Linked DNA regions of Homo sapiens. The protein of the gene in region 2 purifies or fractionates together with the protein of the main gene of each other region. This does not show direct contact. Each region holds a gene or a part of one and is shown on either strand. Other genes may lie near its edges. The genes, in order: DACH1, FRAT2, TRPC4AP and RILPL2.

What was found.
Region 1: the proteins of FRAT2 (region 2) and DACH1 purify together in Homo sapiens (affinity purification with mass spectrometry; one large-scale study listed by BioGRID and IntAct). This does not show direct contact.
Region 3: the proteins of FRAT2 (region 2) and TRPC4AP purify together in Homo sapiens (affinity purification with mass spectrometry; one large-scale study listed by BioGRID and IntAct). This does not show direct contact.
Region 4: the proteins of FRAT2 (region 2) and RILPL2 purify together in Homo sapiens (affinity purification with mass spectrometry; one large-scale study listed by BioGRID and IntAct). This does not show direct contact.

Annotation. Positions count from the first base shown.
Region 1 is NC_000013.11:71,558,706-71,564,667, forward strand, and holds part of DACH1 (dachshund homolog 1), read right to left. Parts: intron 1,251-5,962; coding exon 1,115-1,250; intron 1-1,114. UniProt on the Homo sapiens protein: Transcription factor that is involved in regulation of organogenesis. Seems to be a regulator of SIX1, SIX6 and probably SIX5.
Region 2 is NC_000010.11:97,330,369-97,336,842, forward strand, and holds FRAT2 (GSK-3-binding protein FRAT2), read right to left. Parts: upstream 4,362-6,474; 5' UTR 4,205-4,361; coding exon 3,503-4,204; 3' UTR 2,129-3,502; downstream 1-2,128. UniProt on the Homo sapiens protein: Positively regulates the Wnt signaling pathway by stabilizing beta-catenin through the association with GSK-3.
Region 3 is NC_000020.11:35,042,816-35,048,777, reverse strand, and holds part of TRPC4AP (short transient receptor potential channel 4-associated protein), read left to right. Parts: intron 1-4,065; coding exon 4,066-4,273; intron 4,274-5,962. UniProt on the Homo sapiens protein: Substrate-recognition component of a DCX (DDB1-CUL4-X-box) E3 ubiquitin-protein ligase complex required for cell cycle control.
Region 4 is NC_000012.12:123,418,838-123,424,799, forward strand, and holds part of RILPL2 (RILP-like protein 2), read right to left. Parts: intron 4,321-5,962; coding exon 4,207-4,320; intron 1-4,206. UniProt on the Homo sapiens protein: Involved in cell shape and neuronal morphogenesis, positively regulating the establishment and maintenance of dendritic spines. Plays a role in cellular protein transport, including protein transport away from primary cilia.

The DNA.
Region 1 (5,962 bases), on a different chromosome or scaffold from region 2:
TCCGGCAGGCCAAAGCAAGTATATATATTTAGTATTATGTTGAACTATATAATTGCCAATAATTGACTATCTTTTATTTATAATTATTTACACAGCATTCAACTTAATCTTTAAATTATCCACTTCAATAGCTCCCAGATCAACAATTTTCACTTTATGCATACATTCCTTTATAACCTATAAAGTGACTTTCTAGAAAATGCTTTCCTATTATGAAAATATTCTCGACAACCAAATAACTTAAATAAACTTTGTACAATTAGATGAAGTGTATGCTATAAACATAATTGCATAAAATAATAGCTAAATTCTGGGAATAAGCAATATATATAGGTTTTATCAAACAAGTTATTCTCTTTTAATATAGTCATTTATCAAAAGAACAATCTGAGATTATTGTACAGACACAAAAATCACTTGTTAATTGGATGGCATTTTAACTTTATTCTTAATTTTCTTGGCCATAACTACCAAGATTAAATATTGTGAAAATATTATAAAATAACACACAGCCCTACTTTCCAAATTTTAAAAATAACAATATATGGCAATACTATGCATTATTGATTGTTACTAATTCAAATTCTCAAACTTAGCTAATTTCAAATTATTTAATCCATTGACCACCTGAATGACTTAGAAATGTATGCTTTTTAAGTTTAGTATTTTGAATTTAACTGATTTCTCTTTGTGGATATCTCCATTAACACAAGGATAAAATTTAAAAGTCAGTGAATTACAAAAATGGCAGAGTAGGATTTGAGGAATGATGTTGAATAATCCATAAACAGTGTACCAAGACACTAGATATTTGAGAATTGGCTGTGTTTACTTCAGAAACCAATCTAAACGGTTACTTATTTTCTCTGTTTCATAGCTCAAATCTTTATATGTGGCATCAAAGAGAGGAAATTTATATCAGGACCTGTTAATGTAGTATCATACCTCATGATATTGCAAACTGGGAAACATAATTTTGAGAGATGGCTATTGCTACAGAGTTTCAGAACATGATCCATCTGAGATCTATTTGGAATGAGGGCATGTTGATTAGAAAATCCAGCTGAACCCTAATAAAGTTTAAAATGGTGACAAGTAGAAGTATGAGACCTACGGATTCTGTCAGAAGAGCTCTCAGTCCGAGCAGGGGAGCTGGACACGCTGCTGCTGCGATGTGATGATGGGTGACTGCCAGGCCTTCTCCCCTCCTCCAGAGAGGGGGCAGGTGAGGGGCTATCAGGAACACGCTCCTGCACCAGCAAGAGAGGGAAGGAGGGTAGAAAAGATGTTAAATACAACGGATCTTTACTTAATGAATGTTGTTTTTTCTCAATACAATAAGAAATGTAAAGAGAATAAACACTTTACTTCATCAGCATTTAACTGTACTAAAAGATATGTTTATCTTGAGCAAGCCAAATAAAGTAGAAAAAGATGGTCTATGAAACTATGGTTCTACAGGTAAGCGTGACTGCAGTAATGGCGAATGTCAATCCACTCTGGAGAAAAAGTAAGCCCTAGGAAGACGCCCAAAAATAAACAAATAAGAACCCATTAGACAACAAAGATCTCAGAGAATAAAGAAGGATTATTTATCATTTTGAAGAAATCTTTAAATATATTCCCTTATTTCTGCAAGTATCTAAAGATCATGTAATAAACACATTATCAACATGACTGACCATAATAATAATACCAGAGGAGTTTTTAACAGGTATTCCATCCTAGTACTGCTCTGGACATACTCAGTCACATTTTCAGGCATCATGGAAATGGATTATTATTTAATATTGGAATAATTTTCTTTGGTTTAAATAATTCTCAGAGTACCTACCACACCTAGCTTCAATTCAACCACACAACTGTATTAAGGGCACATTTATGAAATATATATCAATCATGTCCCAGGGAAATTTGGTACTGTGCTTCCTGATACTCTATTTTATGTCAACAGTCTTGTCTCTCTCCACACCTCCCTCTCTAAGCTCTGTACATTCTCCATTAGACAAATCTGCAAGTAGATTCTATAAATGTCTCCAATTAGCTATTATAAATGGAATTACAGATTAAGAAAGAAGGTACCCATTGGTGAACATTTTCTACTTTGAGCAGCAAAATATTTATACCCTCAGTTATTAACAGACACAGGCCTTGATGAACTGTCTTTGTAATAATAAATAGTTAAAAGTGTGGAAGAAAACTATATAAAGTATGTAGATGTATAATGTACTTATAAATAATTAGTACATTATTCCTTATTAGAGAGAAAATATGCAATTACAAAATAGAGAAAAAAAATCTAAAATGTAATTGGCCTGTAGGAGGCTAATGTTTCCAAAATGTCAATGTTAACTTAATACGGAAAACAAATAGGAGGTTCCAGGTTTTGTACTGCCAGTGAGAATGATGATCGTGCTCATCTTTGGTCAAAGTGATTCCATTAGCACCATGATGGTTTGAAATCCTGCTGCACATCAGAATCACCTGGCATGTTCTTAAATGCGCTTATGCTTGAGTTTCACTCCCAGAGATTCTGGTTTACTGAGTATTATGGCTTAATTGTGTTCCCCAAAAAGATCTGTTGAAGCCCTAACCTTTGGTCCCTATCAATATGAATGTACTTGAAAACTGAGTCTTTGCAGACATAATTAGTTAAGATGAGAACATACTGGATTAGGGTGGCTTTTAATCCCACGTGAGTCGTGTCCTTACAAGTAGATGTGAAGATAGGAGGGAAGAATGTCATGTGACCATAGAGGAAGAGATTAAACTTGTGCAGCTTCAAGCCAGGGAATGGCAAGGATTGCCAGCTGCTACCAGAAGCTATAGAAAGCGAAGGATTCTACCTAGTATCTCAAAGGGAGCATGGTCCTCATGAACTCCTGATTTTGAACTTCTAGACTCCAATAATGAGAGACAATAAATTTCTGTGGTTTTAAGGTACCCAGTTTCTGGTTCTTTGTTACAGTGGCCCTAGAAATCTAATACACTAGGTCTAAAATGGGACCCAGACTTCGGTATCTTTTTAAAAGCTCTCCCTATGATTTTAATATGGAACCAAGATTGAGCTGTACTTTTGTCACACTCTTTTAATTTTTCAATGATGTACATTGCCAATAAACATCTTCAACAGATATGCTGAGACTTCATTTTGAAGACCCTGACAAATAAAATGAAAATAACCAGAAAAAATAGCCAAGCCCTTTTCCCAAATCCATGTCATAAAATGGTTTCCTAACATATATTCCATGGAATTAAAAAAAAAAAGCGCTATAAGAAGCTTCATGACAAAACAATATTGTAAAGGAAAAGAAAAAAGAGGTCAATTAAATTTTAATCTCGAAAGTTGCAATGCGTATTACAATCTTGTCGTAATGATAACTTGTTGAACTTTAAGAGTTTTTGTACAGAGCTAATATGTGCTGATAGGCTTCTGTAAAAGACAATAAACTCCCACAGAAGGCAGACGTATTGTTAGTATTATACTAAAAAGCATTAGCCCTTTACCTTAATTGATCGGGGTTAACAATTAAGTGTTTTATTTTATGCAAATAGCAAAACTGATATGTAGGTAAATGTAAGCAACACACAATATATTTTCCATCTCAAGTTATGTGGGGTTTCCACTTAAAATACTGCAAATATGCAAATAAGTGGGAGGGAGAGAGAAAGAGAAAGAGACAGAGAGAAGAGATGGGAAGAGGAGAGAGAAAACAAGGGGGGACAAAGACAAACATACATCCCAGATATTAAAATTTGAAACTAACTTGTTCAGAGACGTTTATAACATGTATGCATTTGTTACACGCTAGGATACTACAGAAAGATGGCATCCAACTTTACAGTTTGCAGATTAAGATATTTTGAAATCTTTATCACAGGTAACATGGAAAACGAATATATTATCAGTTACTTTTCCAAGCTAACAAAATGAAGCATGTATGCTTCTAAAACGTCTAAGGCAAACAAACGACCAACAGTTTTAAAAAACAAACATGTATATGACTTAAAAGAGCAGAAACTTCACATCTGGATGCCAAAACTTACTTCCTGTCTTCTAATTATAATTACCCTAAACTATAAAGAAGTTTCAAATGGCAATATTCTCATATCAAATCATTGTAATCACAAATCAAAAGACAATCTTGGCTTGTGTTAGCCACACCATAATTCAAAAGTTTAGTTGTGTATGGTTTTGGAGTATTTGCGCACTTATCATAGAGGATGCATTTATAAGGCTATATGTAGAACTCCTTTATAATTTGTATAAATATATCAAGAAACAATACTGCAGCTAACTGCATACATGTCCAGAGATATACTCTTAAAGTCTAATCTTGATTTCTTGAAATTCTAATAGAAGCATAGTTTGTCTAAGCTTTAGAGCTAATTCCTAATACATCTAACTGTTAGCACTTGGATTACACAGAAATACATGGTGTGTATTTAAGAAAATGCATTGATATATTTTTGTATAAAGAGAATTTTCTAAATTAACCATTCTATTTTATTCCAAAGTTCACTCACATCAATGCTTATCTATCAATAAATTTTAACATTTTTCTTAATCATTATGTTAATGCATGTTTGGCTGAACAGACATAAAGTACAATCTTGAAATAAATCAGTCTCTCTAAAATGATTTTGCAAGTCTGATTTTCCTGTCATAATAGATTTCTTGGTAGTGCTAATGGAAAGCATGAGAATATAATTTTTCTGAGATATTTAACTCATAAAATGCTTAAATATTTAATGCATAAATCTCTGGAAACAATTATTATGCCATTAAAATAATTCCTTGTTTATTTTAACATTTCCCATATAAGTAGAAAAATGCTTTATTAGTCAATGTACTTAAATGTCAAAGTTGTCTGTGATCATCCCTTTAATTCATGAATTGTTCAGTTACTCATTTACACATCCAAAATACTCTTAAAAAGGCATATTATACTAAGTAAAAATAAATTAGATTGAAATCTTTATGTAAAATGCATTTTAAAAGCATAATAAAGCTCAGTAAATATGTATAAGTAAAATAATAGTATTTAATTTACCTTTAACTTAGTTTTTGCTTTAATTGTAGTTTTGTGTTCAAGAACAAAGGATACAAAAACAACAGTTAATACTGTTATTTGAAGAAAATATTTTAATTTATGCAAGTGTTTATGATTTAAAAGCTTAACTATTCAATTGAAACTTTCTATAAATTGAGACACAACATATTCAGTCATTTTACTTAATGTATAATTTCAATCTTTGGAACCTAATGTATTGTTCTTTGAAGAATTTCATTAAAGTAAAATCCATTGAGCAAGTAAGATTTGAATACATTGTTGCACAATAAATTAATTTATTTCAACAGCTTAATTCTTTTATCATATTTATATGCTTGCCTTTCCAGAGTATTCTATAAGATGGAGAATAATGGAGACAATAAAGAATTGCTTAGGAGGGAATCTCATAATTATTACTGAAACAAAATAGATAATGAGTTTTATTCAGACATAATAAGAAAGAAGCAGTTCAATGTCTATAAGAAAACTATGTAAACTGGATTTATCATTTCATTTGTGTAATACCCTTTAACGTCCAATAAGGGGCTGAAGCAGGACAGAGAGAACGAATATTTAATTTAATACTTCAACACACTCCTTTATAGTCCTGAATCAACTTTACCAATCAATAAAACACAATCTTTTGCAATGTTCCATCTTTATAAAACTCGCCACAATAATAAATGAAAATTTAAGAGGAGCACTCTTTCACTGAAAAAAAAAAAAAAGGTCATACTAATAAACTAATAGTAACCGGAGGACAAAAAAGGAAAAGCTGCATTTTTGCCTCTGGGAAGAACAAGAAGTATTTGGTGTGTAGGATAATTCAGAATCAAAAATAGAATTCAAAAACAACATACTCAAATTCTAAAATAAACAGTGTAAAATGTTCAGTACTACACACATGT
Region 2 (6,474 bases):
TGGATCAGTAGCAAGAGTTGGGGTGAGAAGAGCGTACTGTGTGTAGGCTCAGACAGGTGACAAGGGTGTGTGAGAAGAGCATTGTGTGTAGGCTCAGACAGGGGGCAAGAGGACCAACTTAAGTGCCCTGAGTTCTGATTCTGCTCTACCACCAATAATTCCTTTCACCATTGTAAAAAGCAAAGTAGGGCCAGGCACGGTGGCTCACACCTGTAATCCCAGCACTTTGGGAGGCCAAGACAGGTGGATCACTTGAGGTTAGCAATTTGAGACCAGCCAGGGCAACACGGTGAAACCTCATCTCTGCTAAAAATACAAAAGTTAGCTGGGAGTGGTGGCGGGCACCTGTAATCCCAGCTACTTGGGAGGCTGAGGCAGGAGAATTGCTTGAACCCAGGAGGTGGAGGCTGCAGTGAGCCAAGATCATGCCACTGCACTCCAGCCTGGGGACAGAGCAAGACCACGTCTTAAAAAAAAAAAAATGCCAGGTGCCGTGGCTCATGCCTGTAATTCCAGCACTTTGGGAGGTCAAGGTAGGCGGATCACAAGGTCAGATCGAGACCATCCTGGCCAACATGGTAAAACCCCGTCTCTACTAAATATACAAAAATTAGCTGGGTGTGGTGGCATGCTCCTGTAGTCCCAGTTACTCGGGAGGCTGAGGCAGGAGAATCACTTGAACCCAGGAGAGGGAGGCTGCAGTGAGCTGAGATCACACCACTGCACTCTAGCCAGGCGACAGAGCGAGATTCCATCTCAAAAAAAAAAAAATCTTGTAAAAGGTGCCAACCAGGGTGCCTGCCCTAACAGGGATCAGCTCCATCTCTACCTAGGAAGTAGAGAAACACTCAGATCTTGTAGGTCTTTTCCCATTGTCTGTAGTCCTTATCTATAAGATGGAAAAATAGTGCCTACCTCGTGGCACATAAAGCCATGTGGTAGTACCAAGAATGAGCAGCTATCACTTTTTGAGCAATGAAGTCTCCCCTTCAAGTCCTCATTTAACCCTTCCAACTCCCCTATTAAGTACTATTGTTTTACAAATCACAAGGGAAAAACTCAGAGTCTTGACTTGCCCACCATGACACAGCTGGTGAGCAGAAAGGGCTGAGGCAACTGAGCATCAGCCTTCCTCTGCAGCCCCAGCCTCGGGAGTGTGCTGAGCAGGAGAGGTTCCCCGGGGGCTGGGTTAGTAGAGCTGGGCAAGGAAGGGGCAAGGCAGGGGCCAGGTGTGGTGGCTCACGCCTTTAATCCCAGCACCTTGGGAGGCCGAGGAGGGCAGATCACTTGAGCTCGAGTTCAAGACCAGCCTGGGCAACACAGTGAGAACCCATCTCTACTAAAAATATAAAAAATTAGCCTGGCATGGTGGTATGAGCCTGTAGTCCCAGCTACTCAGGAGGTTGAGGTGAGAGGACTGTTTGAGCCCAGGAGGTTGAGGCTGCAGTGAGCCAAGATCGTGCCACTGCACTCCAACCTGGGTTACAGAGTAAGACACCATCTCAAAATAATAAAATTAAATTAAAAAGAGAAAAGGGCAAGGCAGGAACTAGGAAGGGATTCAGCAAGGGCTCTATGCCTGGGAAGACAGGGCAGAGAGAGAATGAGGAGAGGAGGAGGGCTACTTCGGTCAAATCTAACCCCTGAGTGCTCAAACCAAGCCATTTTACAACTACCAAATACACTGCTGTAAAACCCTGTTTTTCTCTCCCAAGGCCATAGCTCAAGACTAGGTCAGTCTCAAAGGGGAAAGCAGGCTGGCTTCGCCTGTGCCCTCCCCATTTTGCACAAAAACGTCCAGATGAAAACCCACCTCCCTCCACCACAGCACCTCTTTGCTCTCCAGCCCAGAAAGCATTTCTAGAATACATTGTCTTTCCACAAAGGGAGTGGAAGCCCATCTTGCAGCTTCTAAAAACCTGGACTCAATTTTCTGATCTTGTGGAATAAAAACTTAGAAGCACTCAAGTCCTGTGGCTCTACTAGGATTCTGTGCCCATCAGCATTGGCCCAAACCATTTGTCCAGGTCCCCCCCCCCCGGTTTAGCCCAAGTGCCCTCTTTATTAAGGACATCCCCATATGCTTTTCTGCCCCTCTCCCACCTTCCACCAAAATGCCAAACCGTGCTCCAAAACAAAAGCCAAATTTATTCAGCAGACATTTTAATTATGAAATCCTATAAATCAGGACCACCACAATTTCAGACACTCCGTTGCGAAGTGTACATCAATAGCTACATCTGGAGGATGAACAAGCCATTGAATCTTTTAAAAATTGGTTTAGCTACCTTAAAGTTTGGGGGTGGCACCTTACAAAAGCGCCGTCAAGTTTCATACAGCCAGCGGCTTCTTCTCTGGGAGAGTCACATTTTAAAACCGGTTTCAGACACAAAAGAAGGGCTGGCACGGGAGGAGGAAATAAATTGTGAGGGTGAGGAGCCGCCGAGGCCGAGGCCCATGACTCCATGGAGGGCCAGAAGAGAGCAGAAAAACGTCCAGGGTCTCTCATGCATTCCTATAGACACCAGAAAGGGTGGAATAAGAAAGCTCAGCTGGGAGGACAAGAAAGAGACTCAAGAGATCGTTTATGACTGTTTCTGAGAAAGCTCCTGGCATGGCCATGAGTGGCCTTCCGGGAGTCCTGTAAAAAGGAAAGCACAGAAAACAGGAAAGAACTCTCCCTACACGTCCCTCTCTGCCTGTTTGTGTCCTCGGGAGACTCCAAGCGGTGGTAAAGCACCAACAGGGCTCTTCTTGGAGCAAGAGAAAGAAAAGACTCCGGGGTGAGTAAGCTCTCCCAGGAACCCCACAGCAAACCGTGACCTTGAACACAGATGGCAAGGTCAAGTCATTTACAAGTCCACATTCAAATCCAAATCTCCCACCTGCAAAATTCTTCACCTCTCTCCAGTCCCTTAATTGGAGTTCACATCTCCCACCTTCACCAGCCACCGAATCGGTGGGAAAAAGGGGCAATGCCAAGCCACCCACCACCAAACTTTTACATTCTTCTCCCCTCTGGAATTTCTTTGCACAGCAATTGTAGCACCACTTACTAAGCTCCTCCACCAGAAAATAAGAAAATGTATGCGTGTCGTTAGTTTTCAAGTATTGTTATAAAGCCATCGCGATTCCTACCCCTGAGCCCTCCTTAAACAATCCAAGCTCACGACGCCCCCAAGGGCTAAGTGAGGTACAAGTCGATGCAAGTAGCTGCCATAGTTCTCCCAGTTTATCCCAGGTCCTTGGGCTTGGATGGCCCGGGAAATTCTCATGCCCCACGGAAGCACCCTGGCGCATACATTTCTCCACGCTTAAGTTTTCTCCGACGGCCTCGCCGCGGCTGGTAACTTCTCTGGTTGAGATCTCTCCCCACGCGCCTCCCCGCAGCCAAAGTGGTCGCTCCCAGGCTGGCGACGTCGGCTTCAGCTCAGAGTTAGTAGGAACTGGACGCTGTTGGGTCTACGCAGCGGCCTCCACTTCCTCCTCCAGGAGGCCTGCGTCAGAGCAAGGAGCCTGAGGGCTGCAGGGCAATGCGGTCAGGTCCGCTGCGGCCTCCCCCGGGCCCAGGGGCGCTTGCGGGGCCCGTGGCTGCAACCGCGGCGACGGCTCGTTGGAGTCTCCGCACGGCTTCCTTGATGAGGTTTCCCGAGAGCACGAGCTGCTGGAGGAGCCGATGCGGGTCGTCGTCGCCGGCGCGTGCCCCGGCTTGGGTCCATCGGCGCTGCTGCAAGCGGCGGGAGGTGACCGCGTCCCTGAGCCATCCTCGCCGGCACGGCCCCGGCAGCGCGCTGGGGCCTGCGGCGACCTCCGCCACGCAGTAGGGCGCAGCGCGTCCGCGCACGCGGCCGCGGTCCCCTAGGGCGCAGCGCAGGGCCCCAGAGGGCGCCGGGCCCACCGTCTCAGCCGAAGCGGGCGGCAGCAGCAGCGGCACCGCCGGGGGCCGGGCCTTGTCCGCCGGCACCGCCGCAGCCAGGGGCCCCGGGGCCCGCAGCGGCACCCCCGGGGGCGCGCACGGCGAGGCCGGGCTGTCCTGCGCCGCGTCCAGCTGCAGCGTCTCGCCGATCTGGGCCACCAGCCGGTCCACCTCGCCCGAGCTGCCCAGCGTCACCGACTGCTGCAGCAGGAGGAAGCTGTCGTCCTCCTCTTCCTCCCCCTCCGCCTCCTCGCCGGCTTCCTCTTCCTCCTCCCTCCGGCACGGCATGGCCCCCCGTCCTGGCACCCGGAGCTGTGCGGGCTTCGCTGGGGGCTTGGTTGCCCGCGGGCGCGGAGCTGCGGGCGAAGCCGGAGCAGGGGCGGACGCGGAAGCCGGAGCCCGCCAGGCACTCGAGCCACGCGCCTGCAGCCGCTGGAGCCGGAATCCTGCCGGCTCGGGTTGATTTGTAAACAATGGGTGACGTCGCGCCGGGCCCTACCACCGCACCGGGGCGGGGGTGACGCGCGAGCAGGCACGGGGGCAAAGGGCGGCGCGGGCGGTGACCGAAGCCGTCCCGCGCCTGTGTTCGTTGTCCCTCCAGGAGGGGGTCCGGGGCGTGGGGACTGATTTCCGACCTCCCGGGCCCAACGAGCCGTGCTGAAACGTGGCGCCTCGGAGGAGGCTGAGGTTGGTTTCTCCCACGCACGGACACACCCACACCCACTCCGGGCCCGCCTCCTGGGCCGCGGCCTCCCTCCCCACGTGTCGGCCGCGCCTAAGCCCGCCCGACTCCCGCCCCGCGCACCCGCAGTTCCCGGCCCTGGTCGTGGGGGAGGGGCGGGCCGCCGCGGGTCCGGCTTCGACGAGGCGGGGCGGGGAAAGGCGGAGGGAATTGGGAGTGAAGAGGCGGCACGTTACTTATTTACTTATTTATTATTTAGAAAAGGTCTCTGTCGCCCAGGCTGAAGTATAGTGGCGCGAACACGGCTGACTGCAGCCTCGAACTCTGGCTTAAGTAATCATCCCACTTTAAGCCTCCGGAGCAGCTGGGACCACAGGCGCGGCCACCACGCCTGGCTAATTAAAAAAATTTTTTTTGTAGAGACGGTGGTGGGGGGGGGGGGTCTCACTATATTGCCCAGGCTGGTCTCGAACTCTTGGGCTCAAGGAGTCCTCGCTCCTCGGCCTCCGAAAGTGTTGGGGTTACTGGCGTCAGCCGCCGCGCCCGGCCTAAGAGGGGACGCTTTGAAGCAGAGCAGAATCGCTCTGAGGTGAGGTCCCAGAGGCTTTCCCTCCCGCAGTCTTCAAGCCCCCGGACATATCATGAGAATAGGACTCACCGCCGCTCGGCTAAAGAAGGGTCTTTTTTTTTTTTTAAGGTTCAAATAGAAATATAGGGGATTGGCCAGGAGCGGTGGGTGGCTCATGCCTGTGATCCCAACACTTTGGGAGGCCGAGGCGGGCGGATCACCTGAGGTCAGGAGTTCCAGACCAGTCTGGCCAACATGGTGAAACCCCATCTCTGCTAAAAATACAAAAATTAGCCGGGCGTGGTGGCGGGCGCCTGTAATCCCAGCTACTCGGGAGACTGAGGCAGGAGAATGGTTTGAACCCTGGAGGCGGAGGTTGCAGTGAGCCGAGATCACGCCACTGCACTCCAGCCTGGGCAACAAAGCGAGACTCCGTCTCAAAAAAAAAAAGAAAAATATAAGGGATGGAAAAAATCTCTCATGGTTCACATTTAAATTTTTTTCCTTTTTAGCCTTTGTTCTATGAAAGTGTAGTATACAAACACATGCATACAGTGTTACACACTTTTCCACTTTGCCTTACATCATAAACGTTTTTCGTGTTATTGCATGCACTTTGAAAACATTTTAATGATTACATAAGTTTCCATCAAGTGCCTATGTTTTTAACATTTGCCTAATTTCACCATCGTTAAGTGTGTAACTAACATTTTTGTGCGCGACACTTTAAGATATTGATGATTCTTTCCTTAGGGCATATTCCCAGGAGTGGAATTTTAAGTCACAGTAGTTGGGTATTTTAAGGTTTACTGATAAATGTTCAGGAAGTGTCTTTCCAAGAGTTAGGTAAATGTACTCTACCATCATTAATGCTTGAGCATACATCATTACACCTTCACTAGTATTTGAGTATTATTGAATTTTTTTTTTTTTGCGGATTATATAGGGAAATTTTCTCCCTTCAGTTTGCATATCTTTGATTTCAGTTAGGTAGAGCAGTTTTCTAAATGTTTGTTAACAAACTGTACTTCCTTTCTTATGAATTGTCTATTTCCTAATAAGATTTTCCTAGGGAGTGTTTCTTACGTATTTGCATGACTCCTTTACATACCAAATGTTAACCCTTTTCATATTTTGCCGCAAATACGTCTCCAGGCTTTTGTTGGCTCTGTACAGTCATTTTTTCCCCCACTAAAACCAAATTTTCATGTAGGCAAATTTTAAAATCTCTTTGAAATTTCTAACACGATGCTAAATTTGGAGTCTCCTTGCTGCCAGAAAGTTATTAAATATTCCATTCTATTTTCT
Region 3 (5,962 bases), on a different chromosome or scaffold from region 2:
TCCTTAGCAGTCTCAGCATAGGAGTCTAGAAGTGCTCCTTCACAACTTTTCCCACTTGCCTCTCACTCCCTCTCATTCCTTTTTGTGTACCCCAAAATGGCGAGGTGTTCCACCAAACATTATGGGTATCTTGGTGCAGTTTGAAAGGGGGATAGATACCATAAAGAAAGTGGAAACACCATAAACTGGGAAAAGACATTTGAATTCAGGTAACCAACAAAGGATTTGTTGTATTCAGAATTTATCAATAATTCTTACAGGCCAGGCACGGTGGCTCATGCCTGTAATTCCAACACTTTGGGAGGCTGAGGCAGGCAGATCTCTTGAGGTCAGGAGTTTGAGAACAGCCTGGCCATCATGGCAAAACCCAGTCTCATTTTGTACTAAAAAATACAAAAATTAGCCAGGCATGGTGGTGCACACCTGTAGTCCCAGCTACTTGGGAGGCTAAGGCATGAGAATTGCTTGAACCCGGGAGGCAGAGGTTGCAGTGAGCCAAGATTATGTCACTGCACTCCAGCCTGGGCAACAGAGCAAGACTCCCTCTCAAAAAAAAAAAAAAAAACAGAATTCTTACAAATCAGCATGAAAAAGAGAAATAGCCCAGTAGACAAATGGGCAATGTTATGAACAAGCATTTCACAGACAAGAAAGAAATGGTCCATAAACATAAAAGAGAAGATGTTTAACTTGATTGGCAATCAAGGAAATGCAAATCAATACCATAGTGAGGGAGAGAGTGGGCAAATGTTGGTGAGTGTGTGTATCAGTGGAAACACTTGTATACTACTGATAAATGTTTATCAGCAGAATATCCTCTTTTTTTTTGTTTTGTAGTTGAACAGGCACATATCTTGTGCCCCAGCACCTAGGGAAGCTTTACCCTGAGGGCTGAGGCATCAGTATTTTGCCATGGGTTACCTATAACCTGTGCCTGGACACACTTGTGGGGAAGCTCAGTCCTAGAACAGTGATTCTTAGGATTGAAACCCAGAAGGTTGTAAAGTCAGTCCATCGGGTCTACCAGCCAAGTAGAAAAGATCAAACTGTATTGTGTAAGGGTATTTTTTGAATAAGTTTTTGTTTGACATTTCTATATACATTCCAATATGTATGTTTACTGGTGGTCGTTCTTGGTGATAGCTAAAAAGTTTAGAAGCCACTGCCCCAGCAAAAACTTCTCCACCTGTGCATCAAGAAACACATAAGAACATTTGTAGCTTCGTTGTTTCAGAACAAAAAACTGAAACCAAGTCTCTGATCCATGAATAGGAGAAGGGATGAATGTACTTTCTTCACACAATGGAATATTATATAGTAGAAATGAATGAACTGTTGCCATAGGCAACAACATAGCTGAGTAATTGAAATAATCGAGTGGTAGAAGCCAGTTGCAGAACACTGTAGGTAGTATATCATTTTCATAAAGCTCAAAAAAGCAAATTATTTGTTGATAAAACTAGTTTTTAAATGGCAAGGCAATAATAATTAATGATGGTGGTTCCCAGAGGCAGAGAGATGCAATAGGAAAGGCACACACAGCTAGTCATTTTGTTGTGCTGCATAATACGTATTGTACATATCAAAAATTAAAACATAAGAAGTAAATTCTTGGCCAGCCACAGTGGCTCTCATGCCTGTAATCCCAGCACTTTGTGAGGCCGAGGTGGGCAGATCACTTGAGGTCAGGAGACCAGCCTGGCCAACAGGGTGAAACCCTGTCTCTACTAAAAATATAAAAATTAGCCCAGCATGGTGGTGCATGCCTGTAGTCCCAGCTACTTGGGAGGCTGGGACAGAAAAATTGCTTGAACCCAGGAGGCAGAGGTTGCAGTGAGCAGAGATTGTGCCATTGCGCTCTGGCCTGGGCATCACAGTGAGACTCCGCCTTAAAAAAAAAAATCTTAAAATTTAAGACAAAACAAAAAACCATAAGAAGTGGGCTGGGGGTGGTGGGACCTGTTTTGGGAACCATATACTGAGTTAGACAGGGCTAGAGGAACTGGTGAGCTACAAGTTACAGTTGCCAATAATAGTAGTAGCTTACATTTGTTTTGTACTAGGGAAAAGGAAAAGTGGAAGCAGTTGTTCCCCAATGCCCCCTGCACAGCAAATTCCTGTCCTCCATTACTAGAAATAGAGGCGAGTATGGGATTCATGAGAGCTTCTAGGAATCATGCACTCGTTTTGGGCACATTCACTGATACCCTTGCTACCAGGTCCTGTGCATTGAGTCTCAGGAGAAAGGGTAGGATATATGCCTTCATCAAAGTATGGTCAGATTATTTGGGAAATAGATGCAGGAACAGATTATTAAAAGTTCATGTGATCTGTGCAGTGAAAGAGAAACACCCAATCCAGTGGAAGTAAATTAGTGGGATGAAGGATAGCAGGTGTTATCTGAGTAGCACGGGGATGGTTCAAAATGAGAAAAGTTGATGTAGTACATGCCATTTACAGATTTTAAGGAGTAATGAGTGAGAATAGAACCAAATAGCACAAGGCATTCCATAAAATTATCATTCTTAATAAAAGCTAGCAATAGAAGGAAAACTTATAAACTATATATAGGGTATTTATTAAAATTTAACTTATAGGATATTAAAATTTACAGCAAATATTGAACTTAATTTTAATGTTTTGGAATTATTTCTGGTAAAGTCAAGAAAAAGACAAGAATTCTTGCTCTCACTCTGGATAAATGGTCACATACATGTGTACACAGAGAGTACCTGTAAGAATGTTCATTGCAACATTGTTTAATAGTGAAAAACTGTAGTTTACCTAAATATGTATTAAAAGAAGAAAGGGTCAGGCACAGTGGCTCATACATGTAATCCCAGCAGTTTAGGAGGCCAAGGTGGGAGGATTGCTTGAGTCCAGGAGTTCCAGCCTGGGCAACAATAGTGAGACCCTGTCTCCATAAAAATAAAGTATTGGCCAGGCGTGGTAGCTCACGCTTGTAATCCCAGCACTTTGGGAGGCCAAGGTGGATGGATCATCTGAGGTCAGGAGTTCAAGACCAGCCTGGCCAACATGGTGAAACCCCATCTCTACTAAAAAATACAAAAATTAGCCAGGCGTGGTGGCGGGCGCCTGTAATCCCCACTACTTGGGAGGCTGAGGCAGGAGAATCACTTGAACCCAGGAGGTGGAGTTTGCAGTGAGTCAAGATTGCGCCACTGCACTCCAGCCTGGGCGACAATGAGATACCATCTCAAAAAAAAAAATATTAAAAAAGTAGCCAGGTGTAATGACACGCACCTGTAGTCCTAGCTACTTGGGAAGCTGAGGTAGGAGGATTGCTTGGGCCTAGGAGTTTGAGTCTGCAGTAAGCTATGATGACACTACTGCTCCGCAGCTTGAGCAACAGAGTGAGACCCTGTCTCTTAAAAGAGAGAGATGATTAAACTGTGGGGTAAAACGGCGGGAAGTGATTGAATCAGCTGCTTGTATCAGTGTAGATAAACTTCAAAATGTTGGATGAAAAGTAAGGTATAGTATGGTATCATTCACACTGTGCATGCAGAGCAGTAACATGTATTTTAATGGAAATATTTGTAAGTATAAAAACATGCACGGGAATAATAAACACAGAGTTCAAAATAATGTTTACGTCTGCAGGGAGAGAAAAAAATGCGACTGGATGGGGGATACACAGAGGCCTTTAGCTATATTTGAAGTATTTTATTTTTTAAAAAAGCAAATCTGTAGCAAGAATGGTAATTTATGATTTCCAAAACTTGAGTGGTAGGCATTTCCTTTTTTTTTAAATAGGCAAAATATACCACAAGAACAATTGAAAACAGTGGTGCTCAAAAGGTAAATTTAGTCCTCAGACTAATCCTGTGAGGTAGATTAGTTCCGTTTTACAGATAAACAAGCAAAGACTCGAAAGGTTTTTGTAACTTAACCAAAGTTTCAGAGCTGCAAGTTACAGAGCTGGGATAGGAACCTAAGTGATCTAGCCACTAAGCCCCGTATGTAAGGGGATGCGAAAGAGAGGCACATCCAATCTCTTGAGTGAATTGAGCATGGGGATTGTTTCATTTTTGTCTTCTGTAGGAAATGATCCGACTAGATGAAGTCCCCAATCTGAGTTCCTTAGTATCCAATTTCGATCAGCAGCAGCTCGCTAATTTCTGCCGGATTCTGGCTGTCACCATTTCAGAGATGGATACAGGGAATGATGACAAGCACACGCTTCTTGCCAAAAATGCTCAACAGAAGAAGAGCTTGAGTTTGGGGCCTTCTGCAGCTGAAATCAATCAAGGTAAAGTCTCCAAGTTCTCAGAATTTTGAGATTATAGCTCTGAGGCCCTTACTAAATCATCTAGTTTTTTTTCTTTTTCTTTTCTTTTCTTTTTTTTTTTTTTTCCTTTTTTGAGATGGGATCGTCACTATGTCACCCAGGCAGGAGTGCAGTGGCACAATCGTGGCTCACTGCAGCCTTGACCTCCCCAGGCTCAGGTGATCCTCCCACCTCAGCCACCTGAGTAGCTGGAACTATAGGCAGGTGCCACCACACCGGGCTAATTTTTGTATTTTTTGTAGAGATGGGGTTTCGCCATGTTGCCCAGGCTGGTCTTGACTTCCTGGTCTCAAGTGATCCACCCACCTCATCTTCCCGAAGTGCTAGAATTACAGGTGTGAGCCACCACACCTAGCACCCCTTTTAAATATCTCTAGAGATGGATCCATGTGAAGGCTCCTAGTATGTAAATTTTGTGTATCTGTTCATTATTTTGGGAACTGAGTTCCATACCTTTCATTAGATTTGTTAATGGGCTCAGAACCACAAAAAAAGTTAAGAACTACTTTTTATCAGAATTACAAATGCATATACTTTTTGATCTACTAAGTCTCTCCTGGGCCTTCATTTTATAGATAATGATGTATAGACACTAATCTCCTCTTGTCTGCAGTTTCACTTTCTGTGGTTTCAGTTATCCGTGGTCAACTGCAATCCGAAAATATTAACTGAAAAATTCCAGAGAGAGACCACATTCGTATAACTCTTATTACAGCATCTTGTTACAATTGTTCTATTTTATCATTAGTTATTGTTAATCTCTTAGTGTACCTAATTTATAAATTAAGCTTTATCATAGTTATGTGTGTATATAAGAAAAAACATAGTATATATAGGGTTTGGTGCTATCTGCCATTTCAGGTATCCACTGTGAGGGTCTTGACTAAGGGAGGACTACTGTACAAGATTATTCACTGAGGCCAGGCACGGTGGCTTAACGCCTGTAATCCCAGCACTTTGGGAGGCCGAGGCAGGAGGATCACTTGAGGTTCAGAGTTTGAGACCAGCCTGGCCAACATGGCGAAACCCCATCTCTACTAAAAATACAAAAATTAGCTGGGTGTGGTGGTGCACGCCTGTAGTCCCAGTTACTCAGAAGGCTGAGGCAGGATAATTGCTTGAACCCAGGAGGCAGAGGTTGCTGTGAGCCCAGATTGCACCACTGCACTTCAGCCTGGGCGACATAATTAGACTCCGTCTCAAAAAAAAAAAAAAAAATTATTCATTGCAACATTATTTGTAATAACAAAAGACTAGAAACCCAGATGTTCATTAACACTGGACTGCTTAGTGTATTCAATATTTATATAATGGAAAATTGTGTAGCTTTGAAAAAATGAAGATCTCTATGTACTGCTATAGAAAAATCTCCAAGATATATTAATGATAAAGAGGAAAATACAGAACAGTGTGTATATGGTATAGTTTTTGTATTAAGTCAGGGGGAGAATAAGACCATACGTTTGCCCACATATATGGTATGCCTAAAGAAACAAAGGGTACACAAGAAACATAAAGTGGTTATTAATAGGAAGTAGCTGGTAAGGGAAGGTAGTAGCAGTGGGAGTGGGACTCCTTACTGTATACTTTCATATATTGTTTGATTTTAGAACCGTGTAAATATATTACTTAAAAACAAAACACTATTCT
Region 4 (5,962 bases), on a different chromosome or scaffold from region 2:
ACAACCTCTGCCTCCCGGGTTCAAGCAATTCTCTTGCCTCAGCCTCTTGAGTAGCTGGGACTACAGGCTTGGGGTTTCACCATGTTGGCCAGGATGGTCTCAATCTTCTGACCTTGTGATCTGCCCGCCTCAGCCTCCAAAAGTGCTGAGATTATAGGTGTGACCCACTGCGCCCGGCTTTTTTTTTTTTTGAGACGGAGTCTCGCTCTGTCACTCAGGCTGGAGTGCAGTGGCACGATCTCGGCTCACTGCAAGCTCTGCCTGCTGGGTTCACGCCATTCTCCTGCCTCAGCCTCCCGAGTAGCTGGGAATACAGGCGCCCACTACCATGCCCGGCTAATTTTTTGTATTTTTAGTGGAGATGGGGTTTCACCATGTTAGCCAGGATGGTCAGCCAGGATGGTCTCCATATCCTGACCTTGTGATCTGCCCGCCTCGGCCTCCCAAAGTGCTGGGATTACAGGTGTGAGCTACTGCGCCCGGCCTACTGACTTGATTTCTGAGAATCTGAATTTTACACAAGCACCTCACTCTTAGTATAAGAGGCAGCATCCGAAGAACTATGGGATCAACCCTGGTGCACAGACATGAGGGAAGTATTCAGAGGAAAGTGCATAGCATGTTCCAATGCTGGGACACGGCTCATTCAAGAGGAATGGTCCCACGTGGGACAGGGAGAGGTCCTTGGGCATTTCCCACAGCCAGGCTGAAACTGCCTGTTGCTCCAGTTCTATTCTGGTTATCAAGAGGATATTGACTCCCTTTTTTCTTTTTTTTTTTTTTTTTGAGATGGAGTCTTGCTCTATTGCCCAGGCTGGAGTGCAGGGGTGTGATCTCAGCTCACTGCAATATCCTCCTCCCAGGTTCAAGTGATTATTCTACTTCAGCCTCCCGAGTAGCTGAAATTACAGAGGCCATGGCTAATTTTGTATTTTTATTTATTTAATTTTTATTTTTATCTATTTATTTTTTTTCAGACACAGTCTCATTCTGTCGCCCAGGCTGGAGTGCAGTGGTGCGATCTTGGCTCACTGCAACCTCTGCCTCCCAGGTTAAAGCGATTCTCCTGCCTCAGCCTCCCAGGTTAAAGCGATTCTCCTGCCTCAGCCTCCCAAGTAGCTGGGACTATAGGTACACGCCACCACACCCAGCTAATTTTTGTATTTTTAGTAGAGACGGGGTTTCTTTTTTTTTTTTTTTTTTTTGAGACAGAGTCTTGCTCTGTTGCCCAGGCTGGAGTGCAGTGGTGTGATCTTGGCTCACTGCAACATCCGCCTCCTGGGTTCATGCCATTCTCCTGCCTCAGCCTCCTGAGTAGCTGGGATTAAAGGAGCCTGCCACCATGCCTGGCTAATTTTTTTGTATTTTTAGTAGAGACGTGGTTTCACCATGTTAGCCAGGATGGTCTCGATCTCCTGACCTCGTGATCCTCCCGCCTCGGCCTCCCAAAGTGCTGGGATTACAGGCCTGAGCCACTGCGCCTGGCAGAGACGGGGTTTCACCATGTTGGCCAGGATGATCTTGATCTCTTGGCTTGGTGATCCGCCCACCTCGGCCTCCCAAAGTCTTGGGATTACAGGCGTAAGCCACTGTGCCCGGCCTATTTTTATTTTTTTTGAGACAGAGTCTCGTTTTGTTGCCCAGGCTGGAGTGCAGTGGTGCAATCTCAGTTCACTGCAACCTCTGCCTCCTGGGCTCAGGCGATTCTCCTGCCTCAGCCTCCCGAGTAGCTGGGATTACAGGCACCCGCCACCATGCCCGGCTAATTTTTGTATTTTTAGTAGAGACGGGGCTTCACCATGTTGGCTAGGCTGGTCTCGAACTCCTGACCTCAGGTGATCCTCCCACCTCAGCCTCCCGAAGTGCTGGGTTTACAGGCGTCAGCCACTGCGCCCGGTCGAGTTTGACTCTTGATTCCATTTCCTGAGCATCACCATGTGCAGCAGGAAACATTCTGGAAAGGTGTTTTCCCTGCCGTAGATTCCATGTAGCCCAAGATTAGGGGCGAATGCACTTAGGAGGTAAATAGATGCGGCTTCAGGTCTGAGTTCCACCACCACTGACCCGCTGTGTAACCTTTGCAGGTCATTGATCCTCTCTGACTCTCAGTTTGCCCGTCTGTAAAACAGATCTCCTGAGTAGATGTTTACTCAGCTCAGTGTCTGGCACATAGCAAATGCTCACTAAGTGGGAGCTATGTTAAATCTTTTTTTTTTTTTTTTTGAGACAGGGTCTCACTCTGTTGCTCAGACTGGAGTGCAGTGGCACCATCTCGGCTCACCTCAACCTCCGCCTCCCAAGCTCAAGTGATTCTCCTGCTTCAGCTTCCTGAGTAGCTGAGATTAAGGCGAACGCCACTACCACCCAGCTCATTTTTGTATTTTTTAATAGAGTCAGGGTTTCACCATGTTGGCCAGGCTGGTCTCGAACTCATGACCTCAAATGATCCACCCACCTCGGAAGTACTGGGATTACAGGTGTAAGCCACTGCATCTGGCTTAGCTATGGCGAATCTTAAGGTATGGGGAATTATCTTTCCCTTTCCCCAGTCCTACTTCATCTCATCAAATTAAACCCAACAGCCTCTGAGTAATATTGGGAAGAAAACTGCTATTTCCCTGCCCACCATACTGAGCTCACATGAACCACTGCCCCCAGAGGAAGAACCATGACTTTGCTCTCTGGAAGCTACATGCCTGACTGCCTCTTCCTTTGGTTTTTTCCTGCTGGGCCAGAGGTATTCTCCCCTGTGCTCCTGCCCCTTGCCCTCTGCCCCTGCTCCCTTCCAAGCTCCTCAAGGTCCTGTCCCTGAGAAAGAAGGCCTGGGTTATTCCTTTTTTTTTTTTTTTTTTTTGAGTCTCGCTCTGTTGCCCAGGCTAGAGTGCAGTGGCACAATCTCGGCTCACTGCAACCTCCACCTCCCGGGCTCAAGCGATTCTCCTGCCTCAGCCTCCCGAATAGGTGGGATTACAGGCATCTGCCATCACGCCCGGCTAATTTTTGGATTTTTAGTAGAGACGAGGTTTTGCCATGTTGGCCAGGCTGGTCTCGAACTCCTGACCTCAGGTGATCTGCCCGCCTCAGCCTCCCAAAGTGCTGGGATTACAGGAGTAAGCCACCGTGCCTGGTCATCGCTATTATCATTTTTGTTTTCTTTCTTTCTCTCTCTTTTTTTTTTTTTTTGAGATAGGGTCACGCTCTGTTACCCAGGCTGGAGTGCAGTAGCGTGATAATAGTGATAATAGTTTACTGCAGCCTTGAACTCCTGGGCTTAAGTAATCCTCCAGTCTCATCCTCCTGAGTAGCTGGGACCACAGGTGCAGGCCACCACGCCCAGCTAATTTCACTTGATCTCAGCTAAAAGGCCGACAAATGATACCAGCTAATTAAAAAAAAAAAAATTGGCCAGGCGCAGTGGCTCATGCCTGTAATCCCAGCACTTTGGGAGGCTGAGGCAGGTTGGTCACGAGGAGTTCAAGACCAGCCTGTCCAACATGGTGAAACCCCATCTCTACCAAAAATACAAAAATTAGCCAGGCATGGTGGCGCATGCCTGTAATCCCAGCTACTCAGTAGGCTGAGGCAGGAGAACTGCTTGAACCTGGGAGGCAGAGGTTGCAGTGATCCGAGATTGCACCACTGCACTCCAGCCTAGGCGACAGAGTGAGACTTTGTCTCAAAACAAAAAACAAAACGATGTTTTTTCATTGACATGGGGTCTCACTTTGTTGCCCAGGCTAGTCTCAAACTCCTGGCTTCAAATGAATCTCTTGCCTCAGCCTCCTGTAATCACTGTTGAGATTACAGGTGTGAGCCATTGCACCCAGCCTGGTCAAACATCACAGGGAGGCAGTGGAGTGTAGAAGCCAGACTTCCTTGGGTTCCTGACTTCACTATTTACCCTCTGTGAGACCTTGGGCAAGTTACCTTACCTCTCAGTAGCTATTTCTCCATCTGTAAAATAGTATCTACCTTGCAGGGTCACTGTGATGATTCGATGAATTAATATATGCCAAGTGCCTAGGCTACTGCCTGGCAGATATCATTATAATACACTGGCATTGAGTTTTCCCATGGGCTGCAGCACCACAACCGGGAGAGTAGAGGCCCTCCCTGCCCTGGGCAGCTGGTCAGCCTCTTCTTGCCCCCGACTACTTCCTTGAGTTATTATTTGGCGGGACCGGGGGGCAGCAAGGTGACACTTACAGCTTTTTTATGATTGTCTTCTCCTCCTTGTTCCTGCCAGCATTTTTGGCACTAGTAACCACAGCATCTTTTTCTCTTCTTCCTCCTGGGCCTTCTCTTGGTGGAATCAGGCCACTGGGAAACGGGACAAAAAATAAATGGATTATTTTATTACAGATCGTTTTTTTTTTTTTTTTGAGTTGGAGTCTTTCTCTGTTGCCCAGGCTAGAGTGCAGTGGCGCCATCTCAGCTCACTGCAACCTCCGCCTCCCGGGTTCAAGTGATTCTCCTGCCTCTGCCTCCTGAATAGCTAGGACTACAGGCGCCTGCCACCATGCTCGGCTAATTTTTGTATTTTTAGTAGAGATGGGCTTCACCGTGTTGCCCAGGCTGGTCTCAAACTCTTGACCTCAAGTGATCCATCTGCCTCAGACTCCCAAAGTGCTGGGATTACAGGCATGAACCACTGAGCCTGGCTTTTATTACAGACCTCTTATCTGTGCAGCTCTGAAAATAAAGGGTCTTAATGATGATGATGATGATTATGGTAATATTACGGTTGAAAGCACTAGAGTCAGAGAAATTCTGTTTAAAATTAGAATCTTCCCTGTACCTTTCCAATGTGATGCCTCGTTTCTTTTTTTTTTTTGAGACGGATTCTCGCTCTGTTGCCCAGGCTGGAGTGCAGTGGCGCGATCTCGGCTCACTGCAAGCTCCGCCTCCCAGGTTCCCGCCATTCTCTTGCCTCAGCCCCCCGAGTAGCTGGGACTATAGGCGCCCGCCACCACACCCGGCTCATTTTTTGTATTTTTAGTAGAGACAGGGTTTCACTGTGTTAGCCAGGATGGTCTCAATCTCCTGACCCAGTGATCTGCCCGCCTCAGCCTCCCAAAGTGCTGGGATTACAGGTGTGAGCCACCGTGCCTGACCCTCTTGTTTCTTTCTCTTACCTAATTGCATTGGCTACTGCTTCAAGCTTCTCAGTTTTCTAGGAATATGATTGTGTATAAATTCTCTAACTTAAGCCTTGGTTTCCTAACCTATAAAATGAGTCTAATAATAGTACCTACCTCAAAGGATTGAGAGATTATCTAAGATGATACATAGTGCTTAACATTCAACAAATATTTATTAAGCTACCTACTGTGGTTAATAAATATTTTGTCTCTGAACTGTTTTGTCTCTGAACAAAATAGACAAAATATATTCTCTCACGTAATTTATATTCCAGTAGGAGAAGGAAACAGTCAATAAAGAAATAAGTAAAATAAAAGTATAAATTGTAAGTCAGATGTTGATAAGAGTTAGATTTTTTTTTTTTTTTTTTGAGACAGAGTCTTGCTCTGTCGCCCAGACTGGAGTGCAGTGGCACGATCTCGGCTCACCGTAGCCTCTGCCTCCCGGGTTCAAATGATTCTCCTGCCTCAGCCTCCCAAGTAGCTGGGATTACAGGTGTGCACCACCACGCCTGGCTAATTTTGTATTTTTAGCAGAGACAGGGTTTCTCCATGTTGGTCAGGCTGGTCTCAAACTCCCGACCTCAGGTGATCCACCCGCCTTGGCCTCCCAAAGTGTTGGGATTACAGGCATGAGCCACCACACCCAGCCCCTTCCCAATTATGTTACCAAAAAATTTCCTTTTGTGTTTAAGCTAGTTTAAATCGGACTTCTGTCACTTGCAACCATAAGAAGACTGACCAAAATGAAACATTTCAATTACGGCACAGTACAACTCATTACATCCACTTAAGCGTTTTGTTGCAGTGCCCACTGGTAA